5 linked regions of the Homo sapiens genome follow. The protein of the gene in region 5 purifies or fractionates together with the protein of the main gene of each other region. This does not show direct contact. Each region holds a gene or a part of one and is shown on either strand. Other genes may lie near its edges.

What was found.
Region 1: the proteins of PTPRE (region 5) and IPO9 purify together in Homo sapiens (affinity purification with mass spectrometry, with the first as the bait; one large-scale study listed by BioGRID). This does not show direct contact.
Region 2: the proteins of PTPRE (region 5) and TMC1 purify together in Homo sapiens (affinity purification with mass spectrometry; one large-scale study listed by BioGRID and IntAct). This does not show direct contact.
Region 3: the proteins of PTPRE (region 5) and ILKAP purify together in Homo sapiens (affinity purification with mass spectrometry, with the first as the bait; one large-scale study listed by BioGRID). This does not show direct contact.
Region 4: the proteins of PTPRE (region 5) and XPOT purify together in Homo sapiens (affinity purification with mass spectrometry; one large-scale study listed by BioGRID and IntAct). This does not show direct contact.

The regions. Positions count from the first base shown.
Region 1 is NC_000001.11:201,866,549-201,870,661, reverse strand, and holds part of IPO9 (importin-9), read right to left. Parts: intron 3,930-4,113; coding exon 3,703-3,929; intron 2,015-3,702; coding exon 1,866-2,014; intron 1,073-1,865; coding exon 944-1,072; intron 80-943; coding exon 1-79. UniProt on the Homo sapiens protein: Nuclear transport receptor that mediates nuclear import of proteins, such as histones, proteasome and actin. Serves as receptor for nuclear localization signals (NLS) in cargo substrates.
Region 2 is NC_000009.12:72,786,632-72,790,744, reverse strand, and holds part of TMC1 (transmembrane channel-like protein 1), read right to left. Parts: intron 2,407-4,113; coding exon 2,262-2,406; intron 1,623-2,261; coding exon 1,428-1,622; intron 1-1,427. UniProt on the Homo sapiens protein: Pore-forming subunit of the mechanotransducer (MET) non-selective cation channel complex located at the tips of stereocilia of cochlear hair cells and that mediates sensory transduction in the auditory system.
Region 3 is NC_000002.12:238,169,777-238,173,183, forward strand, and holds the end of ILKAP (integrin-linked kinase-associated serine/threonine phosphatase 2C), read right to left. Parts: intron 1,249-3,407; coding exon 1,167-1,248; intron 901-1,166; coding exon 760-900; 3' UTR 626-759; downstream 1-625. UniProt on the Homo sapiens protein: Protein phosphatase that may play a role in regulation of cell cycle progression via dephosphorylation of its substrates whose appropriate phosphorylation states might be crucial for cell proliferation.
Region 4 is NC_000012.12:64,413,976-64,418,088, reverse strand, and holds part of XPOT (exportin-T), read right to left. Parts: intron 3,183-4,113; coding exon 3,100-3,182; intron 1,392-3,099; coding exon 1,335-1,391; intron 44-1,334; coding exon 1-43. UniProt on the Homo sapiens protein: Mediates the nuclear export of aminoacylated tRNAs. In the nucleus binds to tRNA and to the GTPase Ran in its active GTP-bound form. Docking of this trimeric complex to the nuclear pore complex (NPC) is mediated through binding to nucleoporins.
Region 5 is NC_000010.11:128,067,192-128,071,304, reverse strand, and holds part of PTPRE (receptor-type tyrosine-protein phosphatase epsilon isoform 1 precursor), read right to left. Parts: intron 3,183-4,113; coding exon 3,019-3,182; intron 2,666-3,018; coding exon of another isoform or gene 2,443-2,665; exon of another isoform or gene 1,620-2,442; intron 1,614-1,619; coding exon 1,478-1,613; intron 1,005-1,477; coding exon 855-1,004; intron 498-854; coding exon 404-497; intron 1-403. UniProt on the Homo sapiens protein: Isoform 1 plays a critical role in signaling transduction pathways and phosphoprotein network topology in red blood cells. May play a role in osteoclast formation and function.

The sequences.
Region 1 (4,113 bases), on a different chromosome or scaffold from region 5:
TGTGGCCCTGCTCATCATGCCACTGGGCTACTTGTTCCAGGGTCACTGACACATAGGCCCGCAAGCACTCTCCGCCATTCTGGGGAGACAGGGGTGGCAAGCAAGATTAGTAATCGAGGGACAGATGCCAGAAGGCCCTCAGTCTGTATAAACAAATGTTCCCAGAGGCCTATGCCTCATAAAAGCGGTGAGTCTATAATGTTTGTGGTGGGCTCATACCACTGGAGTTAAGACATTTACTGTTACAGACATAGACGTGCATTACATAATTCCCCCTTTACCTAATCAGCTATCTCACAAATGTGTATATATATTTTTTTAATCACAAGGGACAATGGCCAAGCAAAATGAATTTTAATCATAAAGGTCTACCTCTGGTACTAAAAAAATATGCTTACAATCTTGGAATAACTGGGGATACTGTAGGTCTTTATATAGGTCTTACACAAACCACTAGTTGCCTAGGGATTTCCAAGCTGATCAATATTCACTGGCAAGTTCCTATAACCTTTCTAATCAATCACAGTAGCAGACACCTGAAAAGGTAACCAATTCACCCAAGAAACAAAAAGAGAAAAAATATTCAGGCATGTCTCCCCTCTCTAGAGGCCCATCACTCTGCTGACTTTATTACTAGAAGAAATATGCAGAAAGACTTTCTTATGGCCCCAAGTCTAGATGTCTGTAACCTCTTTCACAGTAGCAATACCCAATACAGATGGGCAGGGTGCTTGGTATCCATATTTTTAAAAACTGTAACATGCTCCAAAGCACCAGAAATGCTTGGCTTTTGCAGACTGAACCCTTCCTGAATCTGCTAAGTAAATATGGAGTTGAGAATTCCGTATTTCAAAAGCATAAAACCATGTCAGATTTCTCAGCATAGTATAAGCCCATGGCTGGGGAGCTATCTTCCCTCTTCTACTCTCCATGTCTCAGATACCTGCATGGTGGCATTGTCATCTGTGTGAAGGGTACACTGTGCCACAGCAGGGAAAGCTTGGCAGATGAGAAGCTGGGAAAGGGGAGGCTTTGTATTTCGTACTACTGTTGTCAGGATATCAATGGCTGTCTGAAAGAGAGAAGAAAAAGAAAAGTCAGAATTGCCTCTGGGGTGGGGGTTGCCCAACAACCAAGATCCTTACTGGATGGGTATTACATAGCAACCCAGAGAAAGCTTATTAATGAAAGGCAAGTTTCCAAAATAAAAGGAATAATTAAATGGGTAGTACTCTCAGCCTTCTCATAATAGCTTACTAATTGATTAGCCATAGGGGTGGGCAGTAGTACATGGTAGTGGATTGGATAACCAGGTGACATACTTAGTGGCACTGTGTAAAGGTGGCACTCTGTTCAATTCACTGAGGGTACCTCTGGAACAAGAAGAGCCATTTTCTTTCTTTCTTTCTTTTTGAGGCAGTCTCGCTCTGTCACCCAGGCTGGAGTGCAGTGGCACGATCTCCACTCACTGCAACCTCTGCCTCCTGGGTTCAAGTGATTCTCCTGCCTCAGCCTCTTGAGTAGCTGGTACTGCAGATGCCTGCCACCATGCCCGGCTAATTTTTGTATTTTTAGTAGAGATAGGGTTTCACCACATTGGCCAGGCTGGTCTCGAACTCCTGACCTTGTGATCCACCCACCTCGGCCTCCCAAAGTGCTGCAATTATAGGCATGAGCCACCGCGCCAAGCCAAGCCATTTTCTTAAAGCTTCAGAGAATCACCCACTGTCCTTGCAGGCAAAAGAGCTCAGCAAAATCACCCCATGAATCTCTAACGCTATTAGGTTCTTGTCAGCTAGATGCATCTGTGGGTGGCACTTGTAGATCTCTCTCACACACACACACACACACACACGGCCACTTACCGCACAAAGCCCTGCAGGAATCTTGTCTGCTGGGGCCTGCATTATGCTGACCAGAGTGGGAATCAGCCTCATTTGCATTGGGCCCTGACAGGCTTCAATCTGGGACAGCTCCTTGAAGATGTCCTGAGCCAGTGAGGCGACGACGGGATCTGAAGTGGATAAGGCAACACGGAATCCCCCTGCCTGATGGTCTGCATCTGCTTCTCGCTTAATGATGCCTGTTGTTTGGCCCTAACCTAAGTTAACAACTTCTGCATTGATTACTTATCACATACCCGGGACCTAGTGGGGCCACATGAATAACCTGAAAGAACAGGAGAGATCCTAAATCTGCAAGAGGTACACTTTGTATGGCTTCATTAAAGTAGGGACTAGTCATTAACAGCTACTCATAAAACAAAATGTGGCTTTTTCTAGAGAAAAATCTTTAAAGTCTTTATTCTTGTGAAACCTACGTTATAAAACCAAATGCTTAAAAAAAAAAAAAAAGCCCAACTGATACTTTAAGAAGACATGAAAGCTGCAAAAATTGCCAAAACACTGGCTTTGATGCATGAGAGAAATCATACATATCTCCTATGGGGTAGCCACGGTAGACATGAAGAACTCTCAAAGCTACTTCTGGGGCAAAAGGCAAAACTCCTAAAAAGCAGAGCCTTATGAAGAAAGGGAACTTTAGCTCAATCTTCTTTATCTATAGAACAAAACATCCTCCTCTATTTAGTATGGAAAAATATAGGCAATGTGCATTAAAGTATACCTTAAAAGATCACTGCAGCATTGTTTGTAATAGAAAAAAATTGGGAATACCCTAGATGTCCATTAACAGAATGGGTAAATTATGATATACCCATTTTATGGAACATTAGTAATGGCTGAAAAGAATGAGATATATCCAAGAACACAATGTGGAAAGCTCCTCAGTACACATTTTTCAGTGAAAAAGCTATCAAATAACATGTTCAGTATATCACATTATATAAATAATCCTTATCCTGTACATCTTTCTGAGCTTCAATATTGGAGCTCTCTCTTTAAAAAAAGAATCCTTAATATTTTACTAGTAATAAGGTATTAATAAATACATTCACTACAGGAAAAAAAAAACTTAAAATGCAGAAAAGTAATAATGAAAACACCTGTAATTCCACTACCTAAACACTCAACATTTTGATGTATTTTTTTTTAAAACATACCTATCTATACATACATGCTTTTCTAAAAGAAAAATCAAAACTTGGGATCATATTCTATGGATTTTTTGGGAAAAGTATCTTTTCATTTATTATAATGTAAGCTCTTTCCCATGGTTTCAGATATTCCTTTTAAGCTTGATTTTTAATGGCTGCACAGTATTTCATTTTATGGATATAATTAACTAATGTCTTTTTATAATTTCCAAATTTTTACTACTGTAAAAAATATCTAGTGAATACCTTTGTTTATAAACTTTTCCATATATCTTTCTTTAGTATCTCCTTTTCTAAATTATAGTCCTAGCCCTTTTCTTTTAGGAGGCTTTTCATTTGCCCAATTTCCTATTCTATCATCAAAGTTCTGAATTATGTCTCTTGCTTATTAGCCCTTTATTTATTATCTTTATCCCTAAGTCCTTACTAGAGAGTAAGTGTTACAGAAATAGGTACTCTATTTTTTAATGCTGCTACATTTACAGCACAATTCTATTTTTTGCTAATTGAAAGCCAGATTCTTTGCTTACGATGTTAAAACCATAGCTTCATAGCTAAGACCAGACCTAGGGAATCTTTCATTTAAATTCACCAGCCACCACCTTTTCTTTGGTGCCCCTCATAATACATCCTCCCTGGCAGCATACCATTACTGTACTTTAGGAAAATGGCGATGGTGAAGGGGCAGATTTTGCTTTCCATGCTTGCTGTGAATTCGGGGTCTACTGTACAAACGATGCACAGGGTCTCCATCACCAGGTTGAGGACCTCTGAGCTGAACTGGGCTGCTAGGTGAATTAAGCCATCAAGGATGCTGGGGAGGAAGGGCTGGAGCACGTGGGTACTCTCTGAGACTTTCAGTTGGTCACAATAACTAGAGAGAGATAGATAAGCAAGAATTATTAAAAAAAATTCAATTCCTGGTTTTCCCAATCAATCTCACATATTATAGCATTTGTATGTGTAGCTTTATAAAGCTAATTCTAAAGTTAGGTTTAAGTTTCTACTTCTTTCTGGATGTATTATATAAACATCAACACCACCATTTCTATGTTCTG
Region 2 (4,113 bases), on a different chromosome or scaffold from region 5:
AATTTGGTTTTATCAAATTTGTAAAGTTACTCATGAATCTCCATTATTACCTTCATTGGCCCCTAGGACTCAGAGGGTCCCTAAAATATATGTTAAAGAGGTTCTTACAAAGAATAGTTATTTTATTGATAATCAACTACCCATCCTTTAATATGGTTTATTTATACAAAAACATAACCAATATAAATAATGGACCAAAGCTGCATGATAATGTTACCTCTATGTACTATTACAATTATGAGACCATTTTGAAAGCAAACTTAGTAAATGCTTTGAGGTGTTCCTACATTTTTCATTTTAAATAAATAAAAGCCCTCTGCTAAATTACTTATATTTTACAAGTTTTTATGACATGACTGTATATTAAAGTCTTTAAAATATCTAGTCCCGTCTCTATTGGTACCACTTCTGAAATACTCAGAATGTTATTTGGAACCTTTTTCTGTAAGTAGATTATATCATTTGCTGTCCAAGATTTTTTAGAAAATTCTATGCTTATAAAGACATATTTTAATTCTTTTGATCTATACTGTTCTGCAAAAGTTTCAGTGTGGGAAGTCTACACTTCCCACAGCCTAAATCTGCACATACTTTGAAAATGCCCAAGCTCAAAATGACGTCACATCATACACATAAGCATTTTATGAACGGGAACAGACTCTAGCAACAACTCATGACCAATGATTTTCTGATTCTAAATGATCTATGTCTAACCTCCTTTCTCTGATTCACTAAATGGGCAGATACTCTAAAGGCAAATTACGGTCATAATGTTTAATTCCTGGAAAAGAGCTGGCCTTCTTCATTTGAATAGCATTTAGAGGGAGAGAAAGTAAGGTACAGGACAGGAGGAAATGGAGATGGAGATGCTGCAGTTAGGCTTCTAATGAAAACAGAGGGAAGCCCAGACATGCCCAAAGGTGGAGAAGCAATCTGAGTGTTTCCAGTGAGATCAACATAGGAATCAGTGGCTTTATCATGGCTGCTTCAAAAAGTTCAGGCAACAATTTGATCTTTTAATGACAGATGAAGGATTTGCAGAGAAAGCAGCAAGAGCCTTGGACTCGAAGTCAAGATTCCTAGGTTCTCACCCTGACTCTTCTCCTAACTCTGTGACCATAAACATATAATGCAATCTCTTGAGATTTATCATTCCCATCTGTAAAACATAATGATTAGACTATGTGTTTTTTAATATCTTTTCTGACTCTAACTTTCCATCATGTCACAAAATGAAAAACAGACAGTCCAGATTTAGAAATAAGACTAGAATAGAATGGAAAATGAGCAACAGGGTTGGTTAACTGTAAGGGCAGGATAGGGGATAGGTAAAGGGTGGCCTTTTTAAATGTTCCATCAAAGAAACATAACCCACAAAAGAAACAAATGTCAGGTTCTAAGCACATAAAAAGCATGCAGAGACGAACTTCATTTTTTTCCCACCACCCAAGGGTGTCAGGATCTTGCTGTGCAAATTCCTGGGATCGCTTCACAGCCCAAAAGATGAGGTATCCACTCCCTCCAAGTGTTAGAAACACGAAGAAGTTAGCCAGAAACCTCAGGAATCTGATCAAGTGGACGTTTTCTTCTACTTGGGCTGCTTTTTCTTCTGTGATAGCTTCCTGTATCCATGAAAACAAACAAACAAACAAAAACCCAAAATAGAATATCTTAGCTACATTTTAAAAGTATCAAAACCTCAAAAGTTATTTTTACAATCATCAGAATGTGAGGAATGACAATGTAAACTAAATCTGAGATTCCACAAACCAGGTGAATATTGCCAACAAACGATGGCAAGTAAGACAGAAGGAAGAATTCTTGCAAACAAACTGTGATTGCTCTGATATTAGGATAGTCTTCACTCTAAAAATCTTCATTCCAGTGAATTAAAAAAAAAACTACAAAATAATGTTTTAGGGTCACTTCAATATTATGCTTATTCCTGTAAATAATTAGTGAACATTGTTCTAGTTTTTAAAATATCTTATTCTGATTACTCATGGTCCTATTTCAATCCAGTAACATTATTTTATTACCAGATTTAGAGAAGAGAAGTGTTTAAGGAATAATAGTGCTGTTGTGGGTCATGGAAGATTTTCCAGTTATAATCAGAACCATGGCAAGATCTTGGTAGGCAGAAACCATGAGTTAATCTTTCATGTAAATTGTCAAGATACTGCACTACTGGACCAGATGGAATGCCTCCAATTTTACTCTTAGAAATACAAACAGCAGGTTTTTGAAGTTGGTGCCTCTACCTTAAAGTTCATTGTGATAGAATTAAATTTGTTGTCTGCTGTTTCAGGATTGCCGATCAGGTAGTCCCAGCTGGTAAAGACCTTCCAGCTGAAATTGAAAGTGTTGTCATCTCCACCTCCATCATCACCAATGTTTTTGGTCATTCTGCAAAAACAGGAAGTTTAACCCAGCAGCCAGAAAAAATGAGATAGGGGAAATAGCAACAAAACATGATCATGAGTGTTGAAGTGGAGAAGCAATAGCAAAAAGACATATATTTTATAACAAGTTTGTTCTAATGACCAGAAAATAGTTTCTTTTTAAATTTTATTTTTGTTCAGTTGTTGAAATTATTCACTTTCTAGGCCTTCAAGATTAATAAACTACTAAGCACTGAAGATTTGAATAATTCAACATGTATATAAAAACATATTTTTATGTGTTTTGTTTAACTGAGATAATTAGTTCTTAACCTTTGGTAGGACAAGAATTTCTTTAAGAATACGATGAAATCTATTGAATCCCTCCCCAGGGGAAAAGAAACATATATACTGACTTTTACATTGCTCCACACAACTTTAGTTGGTTCCCAGACCATCTGAAGCCTCTGGATGGACTAAACCAGGCAAAGAAACTCCTATGTAAATTTTAATTCCCCCTAGAATCTCATCCCAAATAGAGATTACATTGAGTACATTAAATTTCCATCTACTCTACAATTCTTGAATAAAAATCAACATTTTTATACAACCTGAATGCCAAGTGGTTTTATATGTATATATATGTGATTTTATATATATTTTTAATCAGTAATTATATGTGTGTGTGTGTATATATATGTGTGTATATATATATATATATGTATTTGCATGAAGAGCTTAAAATGCATTTACTCACAGGTTTATTTTAGTGGTTAGAGATCTATATCCTATATACTCCACTTCCTTTTTTCCCTTTCACTATAAATAGCAAAATTAAAATTTCATATGACACAAATTATAAAATGGTCCCATAAGGTTTTGGTTTTTAAAATATTATAGTCATATAAACCCCAAAGAAGAAAGGGGCACAATGACATAAAGCTGACATTGTAGGTTGACCGGTATCTCTAGATCATCTACATTCCCCCACTATTAGCCACACTTATCATGGAGGCTCATACATTTTAAATAGGCTAGCATGTAAGGAAAAATTACAGATCATTATTCCTTTCATCCATCTACCACTTTACCCTTTGCAAATGGTGATTGTGTGTGCTTTCACATTTGTTCTCTTTAAAATCTCAGCAAGAAGTCAAGGTAGTTACTCTCCTTTTTACAGATAAGGAAGCTGAAGCTCAAAGGCATGAAATAATTTTCTGGACATTATCCAGCAGTGAACCACAGAGATAAGTCAAGGGCTCAGATTTTCTGACTTTGCTCCAGTGCTCAAGCTAGGACACCATGAGGTATGAAAAGCCATACAAAATGCTTTTTTTTTTTTTTTTGGAGGCCAAAAGGGTTGAAAGCAGATATTCCCTATGGTTTAACCTAGGGAGAAAATGACTTATTTGATTAATATGCCACTATCCAGTTTTTGCACTGTCATTGACCAAGGGCAGGGCTTCAAGTAAAAATGGCCACTTGGCAGATAAGTTTTGAATGGAGTTTTATCACTGGCAAAGTTTTGAGCTGAAGACAGCCTCCCAGGGAAGGGAGCCCGAACTGAATGAGCAGACTGGGAACATCTAACATGTGGGAAAGGGTGTGAAAAGAAGTGGAATACTGAAAGGAATAAGGAAAGATGCCCAAGGCAAACCTGCTTGCAACACATTTTTATTGAGATATGGCCATGATAGCTATAAGCTCTACTCTTTGTCTATAGAGCAAAATG
Region 3 (3,407 bases), on a different chromosome or scaffold from region 5:
AGATTAACCTCATTCCAGCACAGGGCCAACTCCCCACACCTACCTCACGTGGGAAGCAGAATTTCCGGGCCATGCTGAGCAGCCGGCTGCCTGCTCCAACAGGAAGGTGCACACCTACACCCAGGGAGTCCAGATGGAAGCCACTGAACCGAGTCCTCCACAGACTCCTTCCACCAGACTGCAGCTCTCACCAATGGAATGAGAATGGCTAATTCTGTACTGTTTCTGGCAGGTCTGATGCATGAGTAACCTTGTCTATGAGTCTATTTCCTGGCTAAGCCTGAGCTCATGCTATGTAACATTTTGCAACACTATTTCCATAGGGAAAACTGAAAAGAGCTAGAGGGTTCCCAAAGCCCTGGTCTGGGCCTAGCCTTGACTAACCAGTCATCCCCTGGGTCTCTTCATTGCAACATGCCACTTCCCCAACCAGGGTCATCATGACAGTGAAAGCACAGCAAAATGCCCGTGAACTACAAAACATCACACAACCAGCAGCCTGCAGGCCACTACGAGCCAGTCCAAGATGCCTATAATGGTTTTAACAAGGAAAGACAGCATATTCAAAAGCAAACACAATCTCTGAAGGGTCAAGAGGTGCTCACAGTATAATAACTCAAAAGACTAGGAAAAAAAAAGAGAAACCTTTATTTACAACCATGGGAGTCCCACAGGAGTACACAAAACACACAATGTGCACACACACAAAATGAACCTTTTAAGTCAATACCATGCGTGCTCCTGGCCGCGCGCCACCCCTCAGTGCCCTATCCGCACCACCATCACAGTGACGTTGTCGGCCGAGCCCCGCTGCACCGCCTTGTTGGCCAGCCTGTTGCAGGCTGCTTCGTAGCGGGCGTCGGCTGCGGACTTCCCTTCCCGGGTCTGGATCTTTTCATCCTACCAGATGAGAAAGGGAATGAGTGAATGGAGTGACCCCGCACCCTGTCACTTTCCTGAGACATGACTGCCAGGAAGAAGAGCTGCTCTGGTCTCCATCAGGGCTGGCAGGACAAACTGACCAGTGAGTCAGTAGGCAGAGTTCACACTGAAAAAGGGCACAAGGGCTGTCCCACAATGGGAGGAAATGGGGTCTCAGAACTTCTACTTCTCTGAAAACTAAGACACAATTGGGACAACCACCACCCCCGTGTGAGATTTCTCACCTCGAGACAGGACAAGATGAAGTTCACGGCTTCTTCTGGGGTAAAGACCTTGAAGAGCCCATCACAGGCCAACAAAATGAACCTACAACACCAGGGAGAAATATAAACGGGTTTTAGGCCCAACCAAAAAATAAAAAATAAAAAAAGGGCCTGGAGATGGAGATAAAATAAATATTTGTCCAACTATTCAAAGGCTAAGGTTTTTTTTTTCTTTTTTCTTTTTTTTTTTTTTTTGAGATGGAGTTTCACTCTTGTTGCCCAGGCTGGAGTGCAATGACGCAATCTTGGCTCACTGCAACCTCCACCTTCCCAGTTTAAGCTGTTCTCCTGCCTCAGCCTCCTGAGTAGCTGGGATTACAGGTGCCCGGCACCACGCCCGGGTAATTTTTTGTATTTTTAGTAGAGACAGGGTTTCACCACGTTGGCCAGGCTGGTCTCAAACTCCTAACCTCAGGTGATTCACCTGCCTCAGCCTCCCAAAGTGCTGGGATTACAGGCATGAGCCACAGCGCCTGGCCAGGCTAAGATTTGTTTAAACCCACTTAATTTCTGAGACAAAGGTTTAAACTACTTACAAGTATTTGTGGATAGGATGTTATACATCAAAACTGAGACTATCCTTCTCTTCGCCAATTAACAGAATTATTAATTACCTCAAACATTAGGTGCTGTACTTTCTTAGGCAAACTCCAGAAAAATCACTGAATAAAAACATGGGTGTTATGGTAAATATACAAGAATTTATAACACCATAGGCCTTACACCACTTCCAGACATAAAGCTGAGAATGAGCCCAGCCTCGGTGAAACATCCTTGGGCACACACTGCACAGCTTGGGGCTGCATCCAAGACCGAGGCCCAAGAAGGGGCAGCTGTGCGTGTTCCTGTGTTTGAAAACCACATGCTCTCCCTTTCAGAATCAAACCCCCCTAGACCGTCCCTGGAATCTTTCTGAACACCAATGGATTCAATGTGACAGTTCTAGTTTTCCTGGCATTGGGGGTGGGGAATACGCATCCCCACAGCTTTGCGGTATAAGCCACCCTCCTTTTCTCACTGTAATATCTGTGGGGTTTTTTTGTGTTTTTTTTTCTTTGTTTTTTGTTGCTGCTGCTGCTGTTGTTGTTGAGGCGGACTTTCCCTCTTGTTGCCCAGGCTGGAGAGCAATGGCATGATCTCGCTCACTGTAACCTCCGCCTCCCAGGTTCAAGTGATTCTCCTGCCTCAGCCTCCTGAGTAGCTGGGATTACAGGCGCCCACCACCACGCCTGGCTAATTTTTGTATTTTTGGTAGAGATGAGGTTTTGCCATGTTGGCCAGGCTGGCCTCAAACTCCTGACCACAGGTGATCCACCTGCCTCCGCCTCCCAAAGTGTTGGGATTACAGGCGTGAGCCACCACACCCAGCCTGTTTTCCTCGTTTAACTAGGCTTTCACTCGGCCGCTACTTGCCGAGCCTATCGTCCATGCTGAGAACACCGTGGGGCCTAGTCCTGGCAGGCTCCCACCCCTTCCAGTGTCCTGAGACTCAGACCCTCAATAACCAATCACACAGACCCATGACTACAACCCAGGAAGGCGAGCTAGGAAGCAAAGCAGAAGGTGCATCCTTCAGAACACCAGAGGCGGCGGCTGCTGGAGAGATGATGGAGGACCCCGCGGTACGTGAGAACATGACAAACACACTGAAGAAGATGTGGAGAATGGGGCAGTGGCTCAAGACAAGGCCAAGCAGGCGAGTGCCAAAGCAAGGCACGCGCTCTTCATCCGCAGCACTGGGGCGGGACTCAGAGCAGCACTCGGAGGCCCACTCGCCACAGTGCCACTAGTGTCTCTGGCCTCCCCTCATCAACTCAGTGCTGTGAATCCTGCTTCCGGGAGCTTTCCTTGACCCCTCCTGCTACTGCCTTAGTTCAGCCCTTCATCATCAGGCCAGGGCTGCTGCACCGCTGCTCACAGGCCTCCCTAGCCCCATAATGCCATCTTTAACCATCACCTGTTGAGGCCCTGCCCTCAGCCAGCACGGTGCCGTACCCTTAGGCATGGAGAACAGGAGATGAACAGGTGAACTGTCTCTTTCTCAACCGATCCTGGCTCTGTGTAAAAACCTATGATTCTCCACCAATGATCAACTAAAGTTCAAACTCTCCAGCATGGGGCTGAGGGCCGGCCCTTCAGGATCTGCCCCCAAAGTACCCTGCTATCACTTTCCCACCACTCCCTCCGTCCCTCAAGCGCCTG
Region 4 (4,113 bases), on a different chromosome or scaffold from region 5:
CTCCCTAATTAGCTGTTGTTGAACAGTGGTTAGTTCTGAGTATCTGTTCAAAATAGAGAAGAAAAAGAATAATGGCTATATTTGGTGTCTATGGTTGTAAAAAATAACAGCCTCATATATTTGAAAGGGAAAATTTGTATAGCTCTCAATTATCTGAAGTTCCCTAACATAAACTGATAATGCCACTCATCATTGCTTTAAAGATAAGGACAAGAGTGGCAGGTAGGGCATCAATATCAATCTTTAATTTGTGATTCTGTTCATGTTGAAACAAATGATGGCTACACAATTTTTCGAATGAAAATGTTTTGTGGTCTGTGATCTACAGAATAAACCAATAGGTGAACTAGGAATCCTCTCAGTAGTGATTTGTTATTTTGCTTAATTAGTAAGTCAGAGATTCTGAACACAAGTGCCCATGCAGCTACTTAACTCTAAGAGAGAATTGTCATGTAGAAAAACAGGCCTGGTGTTACCAGATATTCTGACTTTTCCAGAAAAGCTGGAAATCTAGATTTTTCTGTGAAATATCTGGATTTTCATTTTTTTTTTTTTTTTTGAGACAAGGTCTTGCTGTATTGCCCAGGCTGAAGTGCAGTGGCACCATCATGGCTCACTGGAGCCTCAACCTCCTGGCCTCAGCTTCCCCAGTAGCTGGGAATACAGAAGCGCGCAATCATGCCTGGCTAATTTTTTAAAAAAATTTTTGTAGAGATGAGGTCTCACTATGTTGCCTAGGCTGGTCTCAAACTCCTGAGCTCAAACGATCCTCTTGCCTTGGACTCCCAAAGTGCTGAGATCATAGGCATGAGCCACTGCGCCCAGCCTTGGATTTTTATGTGTAACCAACAAACTCAGCACTTTTTTTATTTTTGAGACGGAGTCTCGCTGTCACCCAGTCTGGAGTGCAGTGGTGTGATCCCGGCTCACTGCAACCTCCGCCTCCCAGGTTCAAGCAATTCTCGTGCCTCAGTCTCCTGAGTAGCTGGGATTACAGGTGCATGCCACCACATCTGACTAGTTTCTGTATTTTTTGTAGAGACGGGGTTTCACCATGTTGGCCAGGCTGGTTAGTCTCAAACTCCTGACTTCAAGTGATCTACCGGCCTCAGCCTCCCAAAGTGCTCGGATTACAGGCGAGAGCCACCTCACCTGGCCAACTCAGCACTTTTAAAACACTTTGGGGTACATCAAAACGTATCTATAACCTGGATATAACATATACACTGTGAATTTACAACCTGTATTATGGTTTCCTTATGGAAGAAAAACATTAAATTAAAAAAATGACCTCTCCCCGCAAATCTGAGTCAAAACAGTAAGAAAAGCCTTACTTGTATTTAACTTGATGTTCCAGTACTTGAAAGCAGAAAAACTTCACATGATCATCACTGAAAAAGAAAAAAAGAAAATGAGATAAGCAGAATATGAACTGAGGAAAACAAATCAAAGGCAAAATAGTAATGAGTAATACAGCAGAAAAGTTTCTCAAACTAGACCTTTGGCTTGTTTCATACTTACTGGTCTCATTTTATGACATTAAAATCCATTTACTTAAAAAGCTATGAGAACTCTAAATATTACACAATATTTAAAATTTCCATTAAATCTGACAAGCAAACTAACCAAGATATTAAGATGCACCTTGAATACAATGCTTTGTAAGCAGCAAACCATCCCTCTAAATTCCAGATATTAAGATTCCTGGAACAGTCCCTTCATTTTACAATAACAGGTTAGGTGTAAAATTACAAATGGCAGAACAGACAGAGTCTGAGTGAAAGTAAAGATGGTCGTCCAAGTCCTGCTTAAAATTCAACCCCAGTAGTTCTATTGTAGCCAAATCCAAAACAAGCAGGGCCACATGGACTGTCAGTCCAACTTCAAAGTTTCGTACAGGACACTAAATTACAAATATGGTACCCTTGCTTATACAAGATGGGGGCAAAAGTCAACACACCAATTACCCACTTCCAACTGTCTTTCTAGGGGAGTGGCAGAGTTGCAGTTAGCCAGCTATAAACACTGACAAAGATCTTCTAGAGACCAACAATCTGCCAATGAAGTGAGTATAAGAGAGTTCCTATTTCCGTAAAAAGTTAGTTGAATGCTTTAGAAAGATTTCATAGAAAGCCACACTGCAGAAGGAAAAAATCTTGTACATATTTGACATGGCCTATATAACCAGAAGACTTGAGAGGCGGGGACAAATATCTTAAAAATCTATGGATCGTCACTCATTGTACAGAGACCCATGCTAGAAATTGTAGAGGATGGGTTACAGGTGTGACCAACCTACGAATAAAGTGAATGCTAGTTAGTATACAAAGATAAAGACTGTGGTCCAATATTAAAAGATTGGTCACCGAATGATTATATACCTTAAGTTAAAATTAAAAATTAAGATATAGGCCGGGTACGGTGGCTCACGCCTGTAATCCCAGCACTTTGGAAGGCCGAGACGGGCGGATCACAAGGTCAGGAGATCGAGACCATCCTGGCCAACACAGTGAAACCCTGTCTCCACCAAAAAGAAATACAAAAAAATTAGCCGGGCATGGTGATGGGCACCTGTAGTCCCAGCTACTCAGGAGGCTGAGGCAGGAGAATGGCAAGAACCCAGGAGGCGAAGCTTGCAGTGAGCCTAGATTGCGCCACTGCACTTCAGCCTGGGCGACAAAGCGAGACTCCATCTCAAGAAAATAATAATAATAATAATAAAATAAATAAATAATTTTAAAATTAAGATATATATCATTTACAATCACCGTCTTTACCAAAGTTTTAGGAAAGCAGTTATCACCCTCAATCATAAGATAAGGAAGTTTTTACTGCACTTTATTCCAGCTGGGATCTGGTGACAGGTACACAATATATACCAAAGGATGGTTTTACTGAAAAGTTAATTCTGAAATGGCCAAACTGGGTTTACTACTTTTCTCATTTCTACATGGAATGACTATATGTTAATGGCTTTGCAAAAAAAAAAAAAAGTCATAAAATGTTTTTATGAAAACACTTTCCAAATACAGGTAAATTTCACAGTCCTGTCATGTCCACAGAAATTTAAATTGTCATGCAAATTTTGTTTTTAATTACCTGTATGTCCTCTGGGCTAGAGCTTCTGCACACACCTGCCAGGCATCTGGGGAAATTTTTAACTGCTCAAAATAGGCCAGGGCCTATAAGATTGCAAAACAAAAAAATGCATTTAGAATAAACAATCTCAATGCCCTGCTAATATAAACAAAATATTCTGAGAGTTGCAAACCTATAACAAATCAGTAAACTTAATAGAAAAACAGTTAAAACATTAAATGCAGGCTTCCGAATATATGCAACTTGGGGTCATTCCTAAAAATAGGTTAAATAAATATAAATTCCATCAGTTAGATAATCAAACCTGTTTTCTTACAGCAGCAACAACACAAAAATGCCCCGCAGCCTTCATGGGGTTATTATGAAGAATGAGAGCAAGTGCTTTGTCAAGTGCCATACTACTGAGAAATTGCAGAGGATGAGTTAAGGGTGTGATCATTTTATAATATGCAATTATAAAATGGCACGTGAAGGGCACTTTTCCTATTTAATAGCACATCTGCTATTAAAGCGGTGATTATAAAAGATAAAACATACTGTGTACCTTATCTGATCTACTGTTACACAGGAGAGTATTTCAAGTCTTTAATTATATCATGTAAGTTCCCTAAAGAGATTAAAATTGGAGTACAAGTGCATGATATGAATTTTGAAAAATATTAAGTAACTGAAAAGGTCAAAGCTCGAGGAAGTTTTTTATCTCTAAGTTTATGAATTCAGGGCCTTGTAATCACAAGTAACAGTGCCAACAAGGAGCAAGAGTACTCTAGAATGGATGCAGCACCAAGTCCATACGCTCTCTACCAAACTGTTGGGAAAATGGGAGTTACTTCAGGCACTCTTCCCATCAGCATGTTGCACCAGATGCAGGTTTCACACATGGCAATGGACAAATAGTAGTGAACATCTTGTGACAAGTATCTCCAATAGACAAGAAAATTGCACATCAACTGGAAGCACTGCTAGATGATTTGACAGCAATTATGTATGAAACAAAAGCTGACATGAGGTAAA
Region 5 (4,113 bases):
GTGGCTCAGGCCCCTCTGTGTAAGGGGGAGGCGGGCCTCTGCCCAGGCTTGGGGAGACAAGGAATGAGACAAGGAATCCCAAGTCGTGCCTGCCGCAAATCTCCAGCTTCTGTGAAGCCCTCCCCTGAAATCAGCCTCGGCTGCCCTCCCGCATCTGCAAGCTCATATCCGAAGCAGCTTGCCTGAGACCCATGCAGGACTGTCTGGGTCAGCTGGTGCTTCACAGGTGTCTTTTCTACCTGACATTTGGTACAGCACACAGGAGCCCTTAGCCTGAGGCCAGAGGACACCCTGCTTTTGACCCTGGTGCACAGGGGTAAGCGGTCAATGGCTTCTCCAGGATGAAAGCCTCCGGCACCAGCCCCGCCCCAGCCCTGCCCAAGCCACGCCACGGGTGCCTTACACGGGATGATCTGGATGACCCTGGCCTTCTTCATGTTTGCCGGCAAGTTGCCCGTCCTCATGTTCTCCTTCATGATCCGGACATTTGTCAATTTCTGCAGCAGAGAAGGATATAATGACACAGTTAAACCTCTGACACTCCTGAGCACATTGCTCAGCCGAGGACTAGTGCTGCTGGCAAGGACGCCTGCTCAAAGGAAACCACTCTCCAACCCAGGAAGCCTCCTTAGCATTGGGAAATACAAATGTGTGCCTAGTAGGGCTGCTATGAGGCTCTGAAAGCCACCTGATCCTTCTTCCCTTGTAAATCATGGCTCAGGTATTGCCCCTGCTTTTTCTGAGGTCAGTTAAGGGGCAAGTGATTGAAAGAGGCTTCCTTTAAATGGTCACCTGTTTTCCTCGTGCCCTTGGCTGCTTACACCAGGATGGAGAGGAGGGTCAGCTGTACTCACCCTGAACTCCTCCTCCAGCCCGATCTTGTCGAAGTGGGTGGTGGTGCCGTGCATGGTCTGCAGGTGCTTCTCCAGGGAGGACACGTCCAGCTCTGTGTCCCCGTAGAGGTAGTACTCGAGTAAGGCTTGGTAGATGAACGTGTACTGCATCTGCAGAGAGGCCAGGGGTGCCCACACCCTCAACTCTGCCCTGCAGTCTTGGCCCACGTGGAGCTTGGCAGACCAAAGAGGGCGGCTTTCTTCTTTTTCTCTTTTTGCCAACACAAGGAGGTGTGAGGCAAGAGTCAGAGTACCGGCCACGGATAACGACCATTTATGCCCTTGAGTAAGGAGAACGGTAGCAGCAGAGCCTCACATTGGTGAGCACGCCACGCACTGTGTACATGCACCGTTTGGGGGAGTAGGATTGCCCCATCTCACATGAGGATACGAGGGAAAGATGAGGACGAGGGAGTCCCTGAGGTCCCACGCGTGGGCAGGGAAGGCTATGGGGAGCGAAGCCAGGCCAGGCCCAGGCTGGTTGCCACGTGCCCATCAGAGCCAGGGCCCTGCACACCTGTGTGGCGAAGGCATCGGGTTTGCTTTGGGAAGCTAGATCAGGGCAAGAGGAAGGCATGACTCACATCCGTTTGAACCATCTGAGGGCGCTGATTACGGATTCGAGACACAAATTCAAACACATCCACCTTCTGCTCCGCGTGCATCATGGCCATCATGGCATCGATCACAATGAAGGTGCCCGTCCGGCCCACGCCCGCGCTTTGGGGAAAGAGAAAGATGCTGCGTCGTGAGTCACACTCCTCCCGAAGTAAATGAAAGGCCCCGAAGGGGCCTGCGCACCCAGGTCACTGGATGCAACTTTTTGTTTTTTTGGTTAATTAGGAGCAAAGCTACAGTGCAGCCACCAGAGGGAGCTGTGGTCTCAGTAAAGTGATCTCAGGCCGGTCCTCTGATAGCCACCGACACTCTACTAAGAGGCACATTAACAGCTGGTGCAGTAAGCCTCGGATTAGGCTGTGTGGAGAATTTTTCTCACTTACCAAACAGTGTCTTCTTCTTATATGTGTGATTGGCATCCTAGATCTGTCCCCCTGGGAGCAGAGGGACCTCAGATCAACTATGCAACAGCTCTGGTATCCAGCCTCCCTCTCTGTCAAACTGGGCAAACCAAGTCATCTGACTCGGGGCATTAAGTGAGGTGGCATCTGTCAGATTACTGTTATCTGACCCTGCAAATTCTTCCCAGTATGAGCTACACTGGAGGGTGGGTGGGGTGGGGTCCAGCCTCTGCTTGGCCCCAGCAAGCGAGTGTTGCTCAGACTTGGGGAAAGCCCGTTCTTCGGGGGTTCCTGGACGGCTTCTCGTGAACACCTGCATGACAGGTGCAGAGCGCCTGCATCACTGCGTGCAGGTGGCTTTTGTCCCTGGCAGTGCTGTGATACTCAGAATGAACCTGTCTGTAACAGATGGAAACTTAGTATCTAATCAAAGTGATACCCTGGTGAGGCCAATCACTGCCAGGAACAAGTGGGGCTCTCTGTGGACAGGGGGTTGTGGGGTGGCCTTGGCTGTACATTTGAGTAATTCTTCATGTTGTGCAAAGCCCACCCAGATGCCAGTCACAGGCTCCGCCGAGGCTGTCCTTCCCATCACAGGTGAGGAAACCGAGGCTGAAGTGGCAGCTGGCGAGGGGCAGCCTGGTCCTCGGACCCTGGTCTCCAGGACAGCGTGTTCTGGAAGACTCTGCTGTGGGGGCCCATCTGAGCATGGTGTGCTCTTCCATAACGACTTGTGTGTTGTTGGGGGGCTTCCTGTAGAAACCAGGGGGCTTTCTCTCATTTCCATCTTGGTTCCCAGAGGTGACTTGGGATTCCCGGGGAGAGGTGAGGGCGGCCAAGCAGACCTGCCCAGAACTCCATTCCCACCATCAACCGGAGCCTCCTGGCTTTGGTGGGTTTTATCGACTGGGATGAAGAGGGGGCTCTCTGAACATTCTCCTGTAGGGTTCTTGGGGCCTGGCTCAGTCACTGACATTTGTGTTCACATCAGCCCTGCCCAAACCTCTGCCCACCCTGATATTGGTCCCCTGGCATTGCCCATGAGGATGAGTCATCCCACTGTGGCCTGCCCTTGAGGGTCCCGCCCCGTGGCCCCCACAGCGTACCTACAGTGGACCACGATGGGCCCAGCGTGCACGGGGTTGAGCGTCTTTACTTTCTTGAGGAACTTCAGCATCCCAATGGGGGTAAAAGGCACTCCGAAGTCGGGCCAGCTGGTGAAGTGCAGCTGTGAGACCAGCCTGGGGGCTTTGCAGCCGTCGGGGAGCTGCTGCGGGGGACGCGGGGAGACAAGAGTGGGTGAAACAATCCTCCCCCTGCTCCCCCAGCATCTCATTCTGAGGACGCCGCCGTGGGCTCCCCTGTGCTGGGGCTGCGTAGGGGAGGGGCCCATCCACAGAGGGCCTGCCTGAGCCAGACAGCCTGGACCTTACCCCTGCCGACTCTGAACATGTGCTGCTTTTGGGGCCACAGAACAGGGCCCGCAGCAACCGTCTATGCCCAGGTCAGGCAGGGCCCAAGCAGCCAGACACATCCCCAAAGTTGGTCTGTGTGCTCACAGACCCCCGTGCAAGCAGGGCGGCCATGGCCCATCTTGCCTGGACAGTCCCACCTCAGGCCGGTGGTGCTGAGTAATCACCAACAGCACATCCTTCCTTGGGCAAAGCTGTCTTACATTTGGGAGGACAGATGATGCAGTCGGCCTGCTCTTTGGAGTCTCCCAGACCTGCCCTCAGAGCCTCTCTCAGCTTTTGGACCCAGAGCCCATGAGTTTAATTCCCTTGCCCAGATCACGGAAGGTGATACACAGCGTATTTGGAAGTAGATGTGTGTGCATGTGTGTGCACATGTATGCATGTGTATGTGTGCATGTGTGCGCATGTATGTGTGGGTGAATGTGTGTATGTGCGCACGTGTGAATGTGTGCACATGTATGCATGTGTGTGCATGTGTGAATGTGGGTGCGTACACGTGTGCACCCATGTGCGTGTATGTGTGTGTGCACATGTGTGAATGTGTGCATGTGTGCACGTGTGCGTGTGTGAATGTGTGTGGATGTATGTGTGTGCACATGTGTGAATGTGCATGTGTGCATCTGTGCGTGTGTGGGTGCGTGTGTGTGCACATGTATGCATGTGCATGAATGTGTGTGCGTGTGTGCATGTGTGTGCATGTGAATGTGTGTGGGTGTATGTGTGTGC